Linked DNA regions of Homo sapiens: region 2 is linked to region 1. A link means that fine-mapping ties the variant in region 1 to the expression of a gene that starts in the linked region. Tissue or cell type: whole blood. Region 1 holds a variant in brackets; the other region holds the start of a gene. All regions are shown on one strand. Distances are between the middles of the regions.

Evidence for each region. PIP is the estimated chance that this variant, and not a neighbour inherited with it, causes the effect.
Region 2: WDTC1 starts here. The variant in region 1 is fine-mapped to the expression of WDTC1 in whole blood (TOPMed, PIP 0.95).

Annotation. Positions count from the first base shown.
Region 1 is chr1:27,344,245-27,352,343 of GRCh38, forward strand. SYTL1 (synaptotagmin like 1) reads left to right here. Exons shown (of 15, transcript NM_001193308.2): 2 at 1,053-1,281; 3 at 3,177-3,325; 4 at 3,564-3,636; 5 at 3,723-3,768; 6 at 4,836-4,908; 7 at 5,154-5,254; 8 at 5,408-5,521; 9 at 5,728-5,888; 10 at 6,145-6,241; 11 at 6,550-6,708; 12 at 7,014-7,092; 13 at 7,212-7,311. The coding sequence starts at 1,091. Among named protein-coding and RNA genes, the nearest start is that of SYTL1, 6.3 kb to the left of the region's middle. RefSeq lists enhancers at 2,813-3,353, 3,354-3,892 and silencers at 5,272-5,581, 5,682-5,741. The variant T/A (reference allele first, on the strand shown) is at 4,488.
Region 2 is chr1:27,230,919-27,239,017 of GRCh38, forward strand. It overlaps WDTC1 (WD and tetratricopeptide repeats 1), which reads left to right and starts at 3,714. Exons shown (of 16, transcript NM_001276252.2): 1 at 3,714-4,033. WDTC1-DT (WDTC1 divergent transcript) reads right to left here and starts at 3,511. Exons shown (of 3, transcript XR_947117.2): 1 at 3,344-3,511; 2 at 2,527-2,684. RefSeq lists silencers at 3,534-3,593, 3,794-3,943, 4,134-4,183, 4,344-4,393.

The DNA of each region.
Region 1 (8,099 bases):
AGGCATGCACCACCATGCCCGGCTAATTTTGTATTTTTAGTAGAGACGGGGTTTCTCCGTGTTGGTCAGGCTGGTCTCAAACTCCTGACCTCAGGTGATCTGCCCGCCTTGGCATCCCAAAGTGCTGGGATTACAGGGGTGAGCCACTGTATCTGGCCATAATTTTTGTATTTTTAGTAGAGAAGGGGGTTTCACCATGTTGGCCAGGCTGGTCTTGAACTCCTGACCTCAGGTGATCGGCCCACCTTGGCCTCCCAAAGTGTTGGGATTACAGGCGTGAGCCACCGCGCCTGGCCACTGTGTGCAGATTTAAGAACATGTGTAGGGCCGGGCGTGGTGGCTCACGCCTGTACTCCCAGCACTTTGGGAGGCTGAGGCTGGCAGATCATGAGGTCAGGAGTTCGAGGCCAGCCTGGCCAACATGGTCAAACCCCGTCTCTACTAAAAATACAAAAATTAGCTGGGCGTGATGGTGCGTGCCTATAATCCCAGCTACTCAGGAGGCTGAGGCAGGAGGTTTGAACCCGTCAGGCAGTGGTTGCAGTGAGATGAGATCGTGCCACTGTACTCCAGCCTGGGCAACAAAGCAAGACTCCTCAAAAAAAAAAAAAAAAAAAAAAAAAAGAATGTGTGTGCATGTCTCTCGTGGGCATGGGTCCGGGTCTGTGTCTGCAGAGGGCCCTTTCTGGGGGAACAGCTGTGCATGCGCCTGTCTTTATGCAGGTGTCTGTGTGCATGTGCGACCATATCTATGCCTACATGGACCCGCGTGTGCACATGTGTCTGTGTGTTCCATCGCTGCAGTCCTGTGTGGCCCTACCTCAGGGTGTGTGCATGTGTGTCTCTTGCTTCTTCCACTGTGTCTCCAAGTGTGTTCAAGGGCTAGTGTATGCATGTGTGCATGAGTGTCTCTCACCCCACCTTGAGCTCAGCCATCCTGGGGTGGCACCCTACCCATACCCGGCCAAGTGTTTGGGGAGAAAAGGGCTGTTGGTTCTAGGATGTGCCAAGCATTTGTGCAGGGCTTGACCTGACCCTCGGTCTGCCCCCAGGAAGCTCCGTGTGCCCAGCTGGGGCACAGCCCCAGCTGATGCCCCAGAGGGGCCACCCATCGCAAGAGGGGCTTTGGGCTCTGCCCTCCCTCCCCATGGCGCATGGGCCAAAGCCTGAGACTGAAGGACTGTTGGACCTCAGCTTCCTGACAGAGGAGGAGCAGGAGGCCATTGCTGGCGTCCTCCAACGAGATGCCCGCCTGCGCCAGCTGGAGGAGGGGCGGGTCAGGTAAGGCAGGGCAGACCCTGGCCGGGGAGCACCAAGAGGCTTGAGTGGCCCCCATCCTGCTCCCTACCGACACCACTGCCTGTCAGATGTCTGCGTGGTTCTTGGTTTTGCCCTTCAGTCTCCTCTGGCCTTGGCCAGCTCACAGCTCATCACTTCTCCAGGGGTGACTGCACCAGCTTTCTCGCCAGCCTCCCTGCCTCCAGGCTTGCCTCTTGGGCCCACCTCCTGCAGCTGGTGCTCCCCAGATCTGTCTGCTTTTTTTTTTTTTTCTTGAGACAGAGTTTCATTTTTTCGCCCAGGCTGGAGTGAAGTGGCACAATCTTGGCTCACTGCAACCTCCACCCCTCCGGGTTCAAGCGATTCTCCTGCCACAGCCTCCCAAATAGCTGGGATTATAGGCACATGCCACCATGCCCAGCTAATTTTTGTATTTTTAGTAGAGATGGGTTTTCGCCATGTTGGCCAAGCTGGTCTTGAACCTCTGATCTCAGATGATCCACCCGCCTCAGCCTCCCAAAGTGCTGGGATTACAGACGCGAGCCACCGTGCCTGGCCAGATCCGTCCTTAATATCCCCGCTGAAAACTTCCCCTGGCTCCCCAGTATCAAGGGCAAGCTCCTAGGCATGGTCCACTGGGCCTCCCTGGTCGGTCCTTGCCAGCCCCCACCATCTCCTCTTTCACCATAACTCCGACCCGACACACAGACACAAAGTGACCCCTCCAGCCACTCAGGTGCTCCCCAGTCCCTGAACCCACTCTTCACTTCTATGCCTATGCTGGTACTTCTTCCTGGAAGAGCACAGTTGTAGAAGAGCATGGGCGTTACAAGCAATGTTTGGGGACAGACACTTCCTAGCTACGTAGCCTTGGCAACTCACCTGACCTCCTTGAGCACCATGCTCGTCGTCTGTAAAATGGGGCTAAGGAGTCCTACTTCACTGATTTAAGAGGAATTGGCCAGAGATAGTGGCAACGCCTGTAATCCTAGCACTTTGAGAGGCTGAGACGGGAGGATTGCTTGAGCCCAGGAATTCAAGACCAGCCTGGACAACACAGTGAGACCCCATTCCTACAAAATATAAAAAATTAGCCTGGCGTGGTGGTGTGCGCCTGTAGTCCCAGCTATTTAGGCAGCTGAGGTGAGAGGATTGCTTGAACCCAGGAGGTCAGGCTGCAATGAGCCATGATCATGCCACTGCACTCCAGCCCGGGCAACAGAGCAAGACCCTGTCTCAAAAAAAAATAATAAAATTAAAAGTATAATAATTATTATCCTTCTCTACCTGGAGAGTTCCAATTTGTCTTTTAAGAAGAAATTCAAGGCTGGGCACAGTGACTTACAACATTGTGGGAGGCTGAGGCAGGTGGATTGCTTGAGTCCAGGAGTTAGAGACCAGCCTGGGCAACATGGAAAAGCCCCGTCTCTACAAAAAAATATATAAAAAATTAGCTGGGCATGGTGGCACACGCCTGTAGTCCCAGCTACTCAGGAGGCTGAGGTGGGAGGATCACTTGAGCCTGGAAGGTGAAGGTTGCAGTGAGCTGAGATTGCGCCACAGCACTCCAGCCTGGGCATAGAGGGAGACTCCATCTCAAAATAATTAAGTAAATAAATAAATAAAGGCAATTCAAATGTCACCTCCTCTGGGAAGCCCTCCTGGATTCTCACAGGCAGAGCTGGCTCTTCTTACTTCTATCACATCATCCACCTCACTACAGTGTACTTGTCTCTTCTGGACTTGGTCTCCCCAGCAGCCCGAGCTCCTCCACAGCACAGATCAAGTCTGATTTGCTGTTGGGTCCCTGGCCCCTGGTCCCAAGCCTGTTAACAATGTAGGTGGCGGGAATGTTGCTTGGGTGAGTCATGACAGCCACACCCTCCCCCTTCCTCCAGCAAGCTCCGGGCCTCAGTGGCAGACCCTGGGCAGCTGAAGATCCTGACAGGGGACTGGTTCCAGGAAGCACGCTCCCAGCGGCACCACAATGCCCACTTCGGCTCTGACCTTGTCCGAGCGTCTATGCGCAGGAAGAAGAGCACCAGGGGTGAGAGGAGATCCTCGGGGCAGGGCAAGCCATGTGCCGTCCAGGGCGCTGGCTGTATGTGGACAGGGAGAGAGGACCACTAGGGCTCCAGTCCTGGCTGCCCCCAGTACTGTGTGTCTTTCAGTGGGCAATGCCCCTCCGTGGGCATGGGGTGGGTGGGTATCTCCCAGGGCCTCTCCCGAGTCACAGCCAGGCTTCCTGAGCATGGGGGCTCACAGAACTTCTCACCTGCGCCCAGGAGACCAGGCTCCAGGCCACGACAGGGAGGCTGAGGCTGCTGTGAAAGAGAAGGAAGAGGGGCCAGAGCCCAGGTGAGGAGGAGTCTCAGGAAGGGGGAGATGGTGCCCACCAGTCACCAGGGTCCCTCCCTCTGAGAGCGTCCTCTCCCTACTCCTAGGCTCACCATTGATGAGGCCCCTCAGGAGAGGCTCAGGGAGACTGAGGTAAGTGAATGAGCCAACATGTGAGTACAGTGTCCCTGGAGGGGAGGTGGAATGTGCAGGGGGCAGGGGGGAAAGAGCCCCAGCCTGGGAATGGGGAGACCCTGGAAATGTTCCTTCCTGTGTCTGCACCTCATCACCTCCTGGGTGGAACAGTGGTGAACGGTGGGGAACGGTGGTGAATGGTGGTAAACAGTGGTGAACGGTGGTGAACAGTGAGTGGTATATGGACCCAGCCTCTAAGGGAACTTCTGAATCTGGCTATTAAGGGGTGAAGTGGGGCCAGGCACGGTGGCTCATGCCTGTAATCCCAGCATTTTGGGAGGCTGATGTGGGAGGATCGCTTGAGCCGAGGAGTTCAAGACCAGCCTGGGCAACATAGCAAAATGCCCCCCATGTCTATAAAAAATAAATAAAAAAAAAAGGCCGGTCGTGGCAGCTCACGCCTATAATCCCAGCACTTTGGGAAGCCGAGATCACCTGAGGTCAGGAGCTCAAGACCAGCCTGACTAACATGGAGAAACCCCATCTCTACTAAAAATACAAAATTAGCTGGGCATGATGGTGCATAACCTGGAATCTCAGCTACTGGGAGGCTGAGGCAGGAGAATCGCTTGAACCCAGGAGGCGGAGGTTGCAGTGAGCCAAGATCACACCATTGCACTCTAGCCTGGGCAACAAGAGTGAAACTCTGTCTCAATTAAAAATAATAAGAATAAATT[T/A]AAAAAAAGAAAAAAGGTTGTCTACCAATGGGTCAATATAAAAAATAAAAATAAAAAAAGGAGTGAGAAAGGAATGGGACTGGCCTGGCCTGGCAGAGGTGGAGGACTCAGGTACGAATGACCCCACCAATGGGAGTAGGGAGTCAGGCGGCACAAGCCCTGCGGGGTGGGCTGTGAAGCACTGGTCTCACCGCTCCTGCAGCTGGCTGCCAGCCCTGCCCGGAGGGCTGCCCTAAACCTGAAACTGGGGTAGCTGGCTGGAGCCCTATGACCTCTGACCCCAATATGACCTTTGACCTCTTCCTCACCAGCCCCCGTACTGTGACCTCTACCCCTTTCTTCCTTCAGGGACCTGATTTCCCATCGCCTTCTGTCCCCCTAAAGGCTTCAGATCCTGAGGAGGCGTCCCAGGCCCAGGAAGGTGAGTGGGAGCGCCTGTTGGGGAGCACGGAGAGGTTTCGCGGGTCAGAGGCAGCTCTAAGGGGCCCCAACCACCTGTGTTCACCCTCGTCACCCCCACTCCCACCCCGCGTCGGAGGTGGGGACGATCCCAGGGCAGCACCGGGGCCTGAATCTGCAGCTCGCTGGGGTTGTAAACCAGTTCCTACAAATTTGCTTAGGGGAGGGCAGGAGAGGGCTCGCTTAGCATCTCGTGCCCCACCCCAGATCCTGGCCAAGGAGACCAACAGGTCTGTGCCGAGGAGGCTGACCCGGAGCTGGAGCCCGCGTCGGGGGGAGAGCAGGAGCCGCGGCCCCAGCAAGCCCAGGTAGGCGGGAGTGGCCCGTGGCTGCTCTCAACATCCGGAGCGGACTCCGGGCGGGGAGCGCTCCTGCCCAGGGCTGCGAGCCGCCCGCGACCCAGGGCGCTCGGGGCAGGGGTGGGGAAAGAAGGGGCGCCCCGTCACTTGCCCCCTCTGCAGACCAAGGCCGCGTCCCAGATCCTGGAGAATGGGGAGGAGGCCCCGGGGCCCGACCCCTCTCTCGACCGCATGCTCAGCAGCAGCTCCTCGGTGTCCAGCCTTAACTCCTCCACGGTGAGGCGGGAGGGAGGGGACCCGGGCGGCCGGGGGGTGGACCCGTTCCGATGCGTAGCCCCTGCCTGCCCCTCCCTCGCCGCGGGACCCACCGCTGCAGCCCCCCAGCCTGCCACCTATGACCCGGGTCTGAAGCCTCCGCGCTGCCCGCGGCCCCGACGTGAGCCCTGCGAGCGGCCCTGACTCCCACCCACTCCCGTCCGCAGCTGAGCGGCAGCCAGATGAGCCTGTCAGGCGACGCGGAGGCGGTGCAGGTCCGCGGCTCCGTGCACTTCGCGCTGCACTACGAGCCGGGCGCCGCCGAGCTGCGCGTGCACGTGATCCAGTGCCAGGGCCTGGCCGCCGCCCGGCGCCGCCGCTCGGACCCGTGAGTGCCCCGCCGGCCAAGCGGGGCGCGGCTGTCACAGCCCAGCCCACCATTCACAGGGTCTCGGCCTCCTCGTCCTCATCTTCAAAATGGGAACAACAGCGTTATTGGGAGGCGTGCGATTAAGCGAGACAATCCCTGTAAAGCGCTTAGCACGAGGCCTGGCACGTGTTCGGGATGGTGGCTGGGGGAGCCCACAGGCAGGGGAGAAGGCTCTGGGAGGGCCCCTCCTCACCTCGGGTTCTCACCTCCCCAGCTACGTCAAAAGCTACCTCCTCCCGGATAAGCAGAGCAAGCGCAAGACGGCGGTGAAGAAACGGAATCTGAATCCGGTTTTCAACGAGACTCTCCGGGTGAGGCTGTGACCACGATGCGGTTCCCCGTTAATGAACTGGACGCCCCCTTCCTGCGGGGCTAGGTGGCAAGGGCAGCCAGTAACGTCATTGCCCGGAGGATCGGCGGAGGGGGCCCATTAACTCGTTATCCAGTGTTGTCAGCCTCGTGGTGGGCGTGGTGATAGTGCAGGTCCCCATTAATGCCCTTAGGGGCTCCCCAGAATTCCATCATGGTAGGAACGCGGTAGGACCTGCCTCAGCCAACTCGCGCAGCATCTACGCGGGCCACCAGCAGTGCTCCACTAAAGCTCACCTCCTGTCCTCAGTACTCCGTCCCGCAGGCCGAGCTTCAGGGCCGCGTGCTGAGCCTGTCTGTGTGGCACCGCGAAAGCCTGGGTCGCAACATCTTTCTGGGCGAAGTTGAAGTGCCCCTGGACACGTGGGACTGGGGCTCTGAGCCCACCTGGCTCCCCCTGCAGCCCCGGGTGAGGCAGCCAGGCCGCGTGGGGAGACCTGCGGCCCGGGTCTCCTGCATTTACCCCACCAGGCTCTCCCGCAGCCCCCTCACACCCCGCCTTCGACAGAACCTCCCCTCAACCTCTTAACCTCATGGCCCCAGGCGAAGCCCGGCCGGCCACGGCCCCTTCCCCGAGGGCGCTAGGACCCCTAGGTTCTGCCCCTGCAGGCCCCGCCGTCTCTTCTAGCCGCACCCCATCCGGGTCTGCAGACCCCACCCTCCTGAGGCCCCTTTCCATTAGCCCCTGCTCCACGATAAGCCCGCCTCTCGCAGGTCCCACCCTCTCCCGACGACCTTCCGAGCCGCGGGTTACTCGCCCTGTCCCTCAAGTACGTCCCCGCCGGCTCCGAGGGTGAGTGACAGCCGGAGAGGCCAAGCTGGACACGCCCTGAAAAGCGGGAGACTCCAGTCCCCGGGTTTGGGGGCGGTGGACTCCATCCGTGTGCGGGCCTGAGCCGAGCCTCTCCGCAGGCGCAGGACTGCCCCCGAGCGGGGAGCTGCACTTCTGGGTGAAGGAGGCTCGGGACCTCCTGCCGCTGCGGGCAGGATCCCTGGACACTTACGTACAATGGTGAGGAGTGCTGGCCCTCCGGGCTTCCCATTCTTTTGCCTGCAGTGGAGTGCCCAACCTCCACAAACCCTTACTAATCAACCTTTGATCACGCAGCCTGGGCTTTCACCACTGAGCAGGGGTGAAGGGGACGGTTTGAGCAAAGGCCTGGAGTCAGGGAAGTTGAGGACACCTTTGAGGAGCTGCATTTCAGCGTGACTGGCGCCTATAGGACTTGTTGAAAAGCTGAGGCTGAGGGCTGCAAGGGTCCTTCCATAGAGAACCTGGGAGGCCAGGCTGTGGGGCTTGGCTGGGAACTTATAGTTCAGTGTAAGCTTCTAGGGGACTTCTAGGGGTGCCTCCAGGTGCTGCCCCCACTGTTAGAGAGTGAAATGGAGGTGGGCGGGTCACTTCTGGGTGTCCACTCTGATGCAGCCAGAGGCTGCAGTACAGAGGTACTGTACTTCTGAGCAACACTGTATTTTGCAGAGGGGGTTCCCAGGCTTTGAAAACCTTGGAAACAGGCCAGGCACGGTGGCTTATGCCTGTAATCCCAGCACTTTAAGAGGCTGAGGCGGGTGGATCACCTGAGGTCAGGAGTTTGAGACCAGCCTGACCAACATGGTGAAACCCCATCTCTATCAAAAGTACAAGAAATTATCCGGGCGTGGTGGTGGGTGCCTGTAATCCCAGCTACTTGAGAGACTGAGGCGGGAGAATCACTCGAACCCAGAAGGTTGCAGTGAACCAAGATCACGCCACTGCACTCCAACCTGGGCAAAACAGAGCGAGACTCGATCTCAAAAAAT
Region 2 (8,099 bases), 110 kb before region 1:
AGAGACGGGGTTTCACTATGTTGGCCAGTCTGGTCTCGAACTCCTGATCTCGTGATCTGCCTGCTTCGGCCTCCCAGAGTGCTGGGATTACAGGCGTGAGCCACCGCGCCTGGCCAATGTTTATATTTTTTGTAGAGACAGGATTTTGCCGTATTGCCCACGCTGGTCTGGAACCAAAACGTTGGGATTACAGGCGTGAGCCTCCATGCCTGGCCGAGTCTCTGTTTCTTCTATGTAAAATGGGAGTAAGAATCATACCTAACTCACAACGTGGTTGGGAGAAGCAAATGAGTTAGTGTGTGTTAATGTATATGGGTGTGTGTGCGTGCGTGTACACATATGTATGTATAGATTTATGTATAGGTCTCTGCCTATATGGAGAGAGAGGAAGTGAGAAAGAGAGAAACTCAAGCAAGTGTAAGAGTACGAGTGGTATCTATTAGAAAATAATAAATAGTAACTGCAGTTGTTAATAGTCTTCTTCCTGGTGGGGCGAGGTGGCTCATGCCTCTAATCCCAGCACTTTGAGAGGCCAAGGCAGGTGGATCACCTGCGATCAGGAGTTTGAGACCAGCCTGACCAATTATGGTGAAACCCTATCTCTACTAAAAATACAAAAATTAGCCGGGCGTCGTGGCATGTGCCTGTAGTCCCAGCTACTCGGGAGGCTGAGACAGGAGAATCGCTTGAACCCAGGAGGCAGAGGTTGCAGTGAGCCGAGATTGCACCACTATACTCCAGCCTGGGCGACAGAGCAAGACTCCGTCTCAAAAGAAATAGTCTTCTTCCTGTCATCAGTCTCTACCAACGAAAGTTCATTCTGACAACAAATATTTACTGAGTTTCTGCTATGTGCCATAGACTGTGCTAGGAGTCACAGAAACATCACCCACTCTTCTCTATCAGTATATCTAAGATCCTCTGTGACCTTGCCAGCATTAAACAAGACTTTAAAATGGGGGTTCTCTGGCCGGGCGCGGTGGCTCATGTCTGTAGTGACAGCACTTTGGGAGGCAGAGGCGGGTGGATCACGAGGTCAGGAGATCGAGACTATCCTGGCTAGTACGGTGAAACCCCGTCTGTACTAAATGAAATGACAAACTGGTGGCGGGCGCCTGTAGTCCCAGCTACTCGGGAGGCTTAGGCAGGAGAATGGTGTGAACCCGGGAGGCAGAGCTTGCAGTGAGCAGAGATTGCCCCACTGCACTCCAGCCTGGGCGACAGAGCAAGACTCTGTCTCAAAAAAAGAAGAAAAAAGTGGGGGGGGGGGTGGTCTCTGCCAAAAACACAGGATGCTAAAATGATTTAAAAATGAGGGTTCTGGATTTGAATAGTGTAGGCTTTAATCCCAACTGTACCACTTCCTAGCTATGTGATTGTGGGAGTCTGTCTTTCTTTCTTTTCTTTTTTCTTTTTTTGAGATGGAGTCTCTCTCTGTTGCTCAGGCTGGAGTGCAGTGGCACGACCTCGGCTCACTGCAACCTTCGCCTCTAGGATTCAAGTGATTCTCCTGCCTCAGCCTCCTGAGTAGCTGGGATTACAGGCACGCGCCACCACGCCCGGCTAATTTTTGTATTTTTAGTAGAGACGGGGTTTCACCATGCTGGCCAGGCTGGTCTTGAACTCCCGACCTCAGGCGATCCACCCGCCCTTGGCCTCCCAAAGTGCTGGTATTACAGGCGTGAGCCACCGCGCCCGGCCGGGAGTGTTTCTTTTTCTTTTACTTTTTTTTTTTTTTTTTTTTTTGAGACGGAGTCTCGCTCTGTCGCCCAGGCTGGAGTGCAGTGACGCGATCTCGGCTCACTGCAAGCTGCGCCTCCCGGGTTCACGCCATTCTCCTGCCTCAGCCTCCCGAGTAGCTGGTTCTACAGGCGCCCACCATCACGCCCGGCTAATTTTTTTGTATTTTTAGTAGAGATGGGGTTTCACCGTGTTAGCCAGGTGGTCTCTATCTCCTGATCTCGTGATCCGCCCGCCTCTGCCTCCCAAAGTGCTGGGATTACAGGCGTGAGCCACCGCGCCCAGCCCGGGAGTATTTCTTAATTCACTAGTAGCACTTATCTCCCATGGTAAGTATTCAATAAATGTTAGATATTATTCAGTTTAATTAACCCAATGACCCTAACCAAGGTTGCAGCCTGAACCTGGGGAGCTGCAGATAGATGATCTCAAAGCTTTCTTCTAGTCCCAAAGTCTATGATTTTTTATATTCAGTAGAACAGCTGTGGTGGAGAGTTCAGGGGGAATGACCCACAATATTTTTAGGAGAAAGGCATAAAAGGCTTTGTGAGCGGTTTCACAAGGATAGGTTCTTACTCCTCTAAATGGGGAGAAATCTCCCTTGCGGAGAAATCACCAGCAATTAGAATACTACCTTTGTCTCTGGGAGTATTCAGGTATTCACAGACAAATTCGTACTCATGATGTGAGCAGAATTGGAAAAAAAAAAAAAAAAAAAAAAAAAAAACAAGCGACACATGGAGTGATAAACACTATAAATGCCAAATACATATATTCAGTCCTTACTGAGAGCGGGTGCTGTCTGGTTTTCACAGGAAAGACAGGCAGTGTTAAAAGGCTCAGACTCTGGTGTCAGGCAGATCTGGGTCTAATTCCCAATTTGCCAACTTATCAGGACCCCGGGGGCAAGTTGCTTTTAGCCTTTCTGCTTCAGCTTTCCTTTTCTGCAAAACACAGACAGCAATAGTACCTAGCTAAGAGACTGTACCCAATCCAGTGCGAATAAAAGTGAATTATTGTTAGTATCTGACAAATGGCACCCTATGGGTGACAAGTTTCCTTTGTCAGAAGGTGACACGTCTTCCCTTTCTGACTTGAGGTTTCACGGGTGGGGCCTGGTCTCTGCCTTAAGAAGATAGGCTTAGTGCCACCCTTGTCACCTTGGGAACTTCCTTAATAAAGAGGAGGGTCTCTCCTCCATCAGACCCGGGACTCCACAAGGCTGGAACTGCGTCTCTTCCTCAGAGGTGGGAGCAGCAGTGACTCCGCTAGGGTCAGATGGACCTAGTCGCTCCCATCACCCCGAGGGCACCCAGAGTGTGTGTGGCTGACTCCTCTCCAGGCTACTCAGCGTAGGCCCGATTCTCTTTCATTCTCTTCCTTAAGGCCCAGGAGACGTCAGTGAGGACTGTGCCACTTCAGCAGCCCCCCAGAGCAGGAAGGAGTGGGCTGAGGAGCCCCCCGGGGCCCTAGCCTGAGAGGTCCCAGAATTCGGGGGCTGAGAGGAAGTCTTAGGAGCTCTTAAGGGGCTGTGAGGGGACCTGGGGTTCAGTGGGCGAGCGTGTGGGCGGGTGTCCCAGAAGCGGTGTGAGGAGCGTTTTACCCGGTGGTGGGGTGGGAGGTGCGTCCGGGTAACTAATGGCAACCGGGCGGGGTGAGCCCGCTCTGCAGGAACTCCTCGACGGCGAAAAACTACGACTCCCAGGGTGCCCCAGGGCTTAGCCCAGCTTTCCCGCCCGCCCACTGGCTGCCGGTCCCGCAAGCGGCGAAGCCCATTGGCCACGGCGGTGCGGGGCTCCCCCACTAGCAGGTTAGTGGGCGCCGCCGGCAGCAGACGTTGACCGGGCGCGGGGGGGTAAGTGGGGGGGCCCGGCTAGCCATTCTGGAAGCGGCCGGGCGCAGTCTTCGTAGCGTACCCGCCGGCTGCGAGGCGCAGGGCGGAGGCGGAGACTGCGTGGCGCAGGCGCGTTGCTGGGCTTCTCCTGGGTCCCCAGACAGCTGGAGGAGATAAACAGAGGAGGAGGAGGGAGGGGAGTGCGTGTGTGAGAGCGCGCGAGGGAGTGTGAGTGTGTGTGAGCGCGGGTGTGAGGCGGTGCGCAGGGGCGGGCGGAGGCGCTGTCCGGCCCCGGCCAGGCGCCGGGCGGGGAGCATGGGAAGGGGCTAGAACTGCTCGAGCCCCCCAGCCCCCTCCCCGGGATCCGCGCCCCCCTTCCCGGGAGAGGGGCCGCCCCCCCCGGACGGACATGGGCTCCTGAAGTTGCGCCGCTGCCGGTCGGGGGAAGAGACCTGACAGGTACGGGTCACCGCCGCCCCCTGCCCTCCGCGGGCGCCGAGGCGGGGACCGGCTCCCGCAGCCCCGGTGAACGGGCCGCCCGCTCTGGGCCGGCTCCAGCCCTGCCGGCCTGGGGGCCTGAGCCTACCCGCCTCGGGGCCCCGGGTGTCCCGAGAGGGGCCAGGCCTCGCCGGGGCGGAGGGCAGAGTGGTCCGGGGGCGGGGTGGGGGCGGAGGGTTTGGTCGGGACGCGGGGGGAGGCTGTGGGAGTCCGGGGAGGCTCTGCGGAGGGAGAGGTGGAAGTCATTCCATCATGGGACTTTTTTGCGGAGTTTTTGTTTGACATCTGATCTGGCGCCGGAGTCAGGAAGAAGGGGCAGGTGTAAGTGCTGGGAGGGCAACGCCGACCTGACCTGCCCTCTTAGCTTCTCGCTCTCTCTCTTTCTGTTTTTCTCTCTCTCTTTCTGTGTGTGTGTGTGTGTGTGTGTGTGTGTGTGTGTGTGTGTGTCCACAGCAGATGCCTTCAGTGGCCCATCCTGGCACCAAACAACTCTGCCAAGGTGTTTCCACCAGGCGACTGTAGCACCCCGTATACAAAGGGCCTCTGCTTGGGAACGGGCTATTCAGTACCCACTTCAAAGGGTAAATAGGAAGTGAGGAGATAGAAGAGAGACTGCGAACCAGCAGGATCCACTTCTTGGACTGAAAGCCGCAGTGGGACGCCCCTTTGCCAGATTGGTTGACTTTGCTTGGTGGCTTGGGCTCTCTCTCCTCTGCGGGTGTACTCCCAGGGTTTCTAGAGGAGAGGTACAGGGGCCTGTAACTAATGTCTTAATAGCCGAATTTGACTGTTTTCCCCAGAGTTCTTTTCTTCTGTGACTTTCTTTAACCTCCTGAAGTACTGGTAGAGCAACGTTATAGTTTTTCTCTCAAGTTGGTGATTTTAGGAGCCTGGTAGGGTGGCTGAAGCTTCCCCATTCATTCCAAGGATGGGGTAGATGATCTGGGTAAAGTGGCAGTGAAGTCTTCCCTTTCTAACAAAGCCTGAAACCGTTTTGAGAAGAAACTATTTTGAGGGCAGCTTCTGACTCAAAGACGTTACGAAATCCCCACCTAGGACACCGGTATGCCCAGTGGTCCCTACTAAGCTTTTCTGTGTCTTTTAGAGTCGTTGAGTGGCCAGCTTCTGCTCACTGTACTGAAGGAACTACTTAATGCTATTTCTGTCTTGAGTTCTGGCTTATTCTTCCTTGTGATTCTTATATCTTTAGCGGGATTGAATTGAATTTTTGCTGTTGAGTGTAATAGCCAGATCCTCTGTAACAGACCAGGGAGTAACTAGTTGGGCTCCTTTGGGCCAAGTCTGAGACTTACTGAGGTTTCTTCATTGTAGGTTGTTGTATTTCGTTGGCAGGTGGGAAATGACCTTTTCCGTCATAGTTTGTGATCATGCTGCTTTAAGGCTGGAGTCCTGCTCTCCTTTCCTTTTTTGACCTATATGGGAGCACTTCTGTTCGAGTCTTATCTCAATTTGAAGGAACAGTGCTTTTGGATCAACTCTGCCGAATAATTGAGCAGTAGCCCATATTTCTGCCTGGGACACCTTCATTGAGGGTCACGAGGGAAAGAGAGAACACGTGTAAATATTATGATGATGATGTTAACAACTATTTACCAGTTTCATACAATTGACAGTTTTTTTTAGCCGGGAGGAGTTCAGTATTGACTCATTGGGCATCTTATGTAGGGTGTTTTTGCACACCTAGACTTTAGGATCTGGAAAGACAACTGAAAATCTTGAAGCCCACTGCCAAACATTTGTGGATCTTGGGCCAACTGCTAAGGAAGATCTAGACTATGACTTGGTCTTTAATTATTTTTATTTTTTTCTCCTTTATGTATGTATGTATTTATTTATTTATTTTTTGAGATGGAGTCTTGCTCTGTTGCCCAGGCTGAAGTGCAGTGGCGCGATCTCAGCTCACTGCAACCTCAGCCTCCTGGGTTCAAGCAATTCTCTGCTTCAGCCTCCCAAGTAGCTGGGATTGCAGGTGCCTGCCACCATGCCCAGCTAATTTTTGTATTTTTAGTAGAGATGGGGTTTCACCATCTTGGCCAGGCTGGTCTTGAACTCCTGACCTCGTGATCCACCGACCTCGGCCTCCCAGAGTGCTGGGATTACAGGTGTGAGCCACCGCACCTGGCCTCTCCTTTTATTTTTATTTTTTTGAGATGGGGTCTCACTCTGTTGCCTGGGCTGGTCTCAAACTCCTGAGCTCAAGGGATTCTCGTACCTCTGCCTTCCTAGTAGCTGGGACTACAGACACGGCCTCCGTGACCACTCTCTTCTCTCTTTTTAAAAATTAAGGAATGTTGCTGACATGTGCAGTTCTGAGTCTCAGAGAGGAAGTCAAACAGAACATGTAATCTGGTGATACTTGTGTTTTCTTTGGGTCACTGGTTTAGTTATCTATTCTGTTTCCTTTCTTCTTTCCACCTCACCTTTCCAGATGCTCCACTGTATCTTTAGGCTGCCATTGCAGATTGCTGGGCCCACAAAACCCTTAGGTTGTACTTTCTTAGCTGTCATCTCTTGAAAAGCCAAAGTTCTGGCAGTTGCTATTAGAAACCAGTTCCTGGCTGAGCGCGGTGGCTCACGCCTGTAATCCCAGCACTTTGGGAGGCTGAGGTGGGCAGATCACGAGGTCAGGAGATTGAGACCATCCTGGCTAACACGGTGAAACCCCATCTCTACTAAAAATACAAAAAAAATTAGCCGGGCATGGTGGCACGCGCCTGTAGTCCCAGCTACTCAGGAGGGATTTTCCTACTAAGGCAGGAAAATCGCTTGAACCCAGGAGGTGGAGGTTGCGGTGAGCTGTGATCGTGCCATTGCACTCCAGCCTGGGCAACAAAAGTGAAACTCCATCTCAAAAAAAAAAAAAAGAAAAGAAAAGAAAAAAAAGAAAGAAGCCAGTTCCTTGGTGTAGTTAATTTACTTTGAGAGGTATTTGCCAGTTGGGATATGTCCTAAAAAGTGACTGACATTTTATTCAGGGCCTGGTATATCTTGAGCTCAGTGCTAGCTAGTATTTTTACTTTATCCAGTGTAACCTTCATGACTGTCCTGTGAGGTGAGAATCATTTTCCCTATTATACCTATGAAGAAACAGATTCAGAGAAATTAAGTTATTTGCTTAAGGTCACACAGCAAGTAAGAGGAAGGACTGGAATTCAAACCCAGGTCTCTCTGCTCTGTGATATTGAATTGCCTCTGGGACTGTGACACATGAAGAAGAACTGAAAAGACCAAGGCTAAGAGCCTGGGGGAACATGATACCTCATTCAAATACTTGAAGATTGTCATGGGGAAAGGAAACTGGATGTTCTCTGTGATTCTAGAAGGCATCTCAGGATTAAATGACATAATTTCCAAGAAGGTAGACTTTGGTTTGATAGGAGATAATGTAGCTTTCTAAAAACAAAATGGGCTGCCTTGTGAGGGAGTGAGTTACCCATCATTGCAGATATTCAAGCAGAGAGTTTGCCACATCTTTTTTTTTTCTTTGAGACAGAGTCTTACTTCGTCATCCAGGCTGGAGTGCAGTGGCATGATCTCAGCTCACTGCAACCTCTGCCTCCCAGGTTCAAGTGATTCCCATGCCTCACTTCATCTTCCAGGCTGGAGTGCAGTGGCATGATCTCGGCTCACTGCAACCTCTGCCTCCCAGGTTCAAGTGATTCTCATGCCTCAGCCTCCCAAGTAGCTGGAATTATAGGCATGTACCACCACGCCCATCTAATTTTTGTATTTTTGTAGAGATGGGGTTTCACCATGTTGACCAGACTGGTCTTGAACTCCTGACCTCAGGTGATCCGCCCGCCTCAGCCTCCCAAAGTGCTGGGATTACAGGTGTGAGACACCGCGCCCAGCCCCGGCTAATTTTTTTGTATTTTTATTAGAGACAGGGTTTTGCCATGTTGCCCAGGCTGGTCTTGAACTCCTGAGTTCCACCTGCCTCGGTCTCCCAAAGTGCTAGGATTACAGGCATGAGCCACCGCTCCTGGCTTTTTTTTTTTTTTTTTTT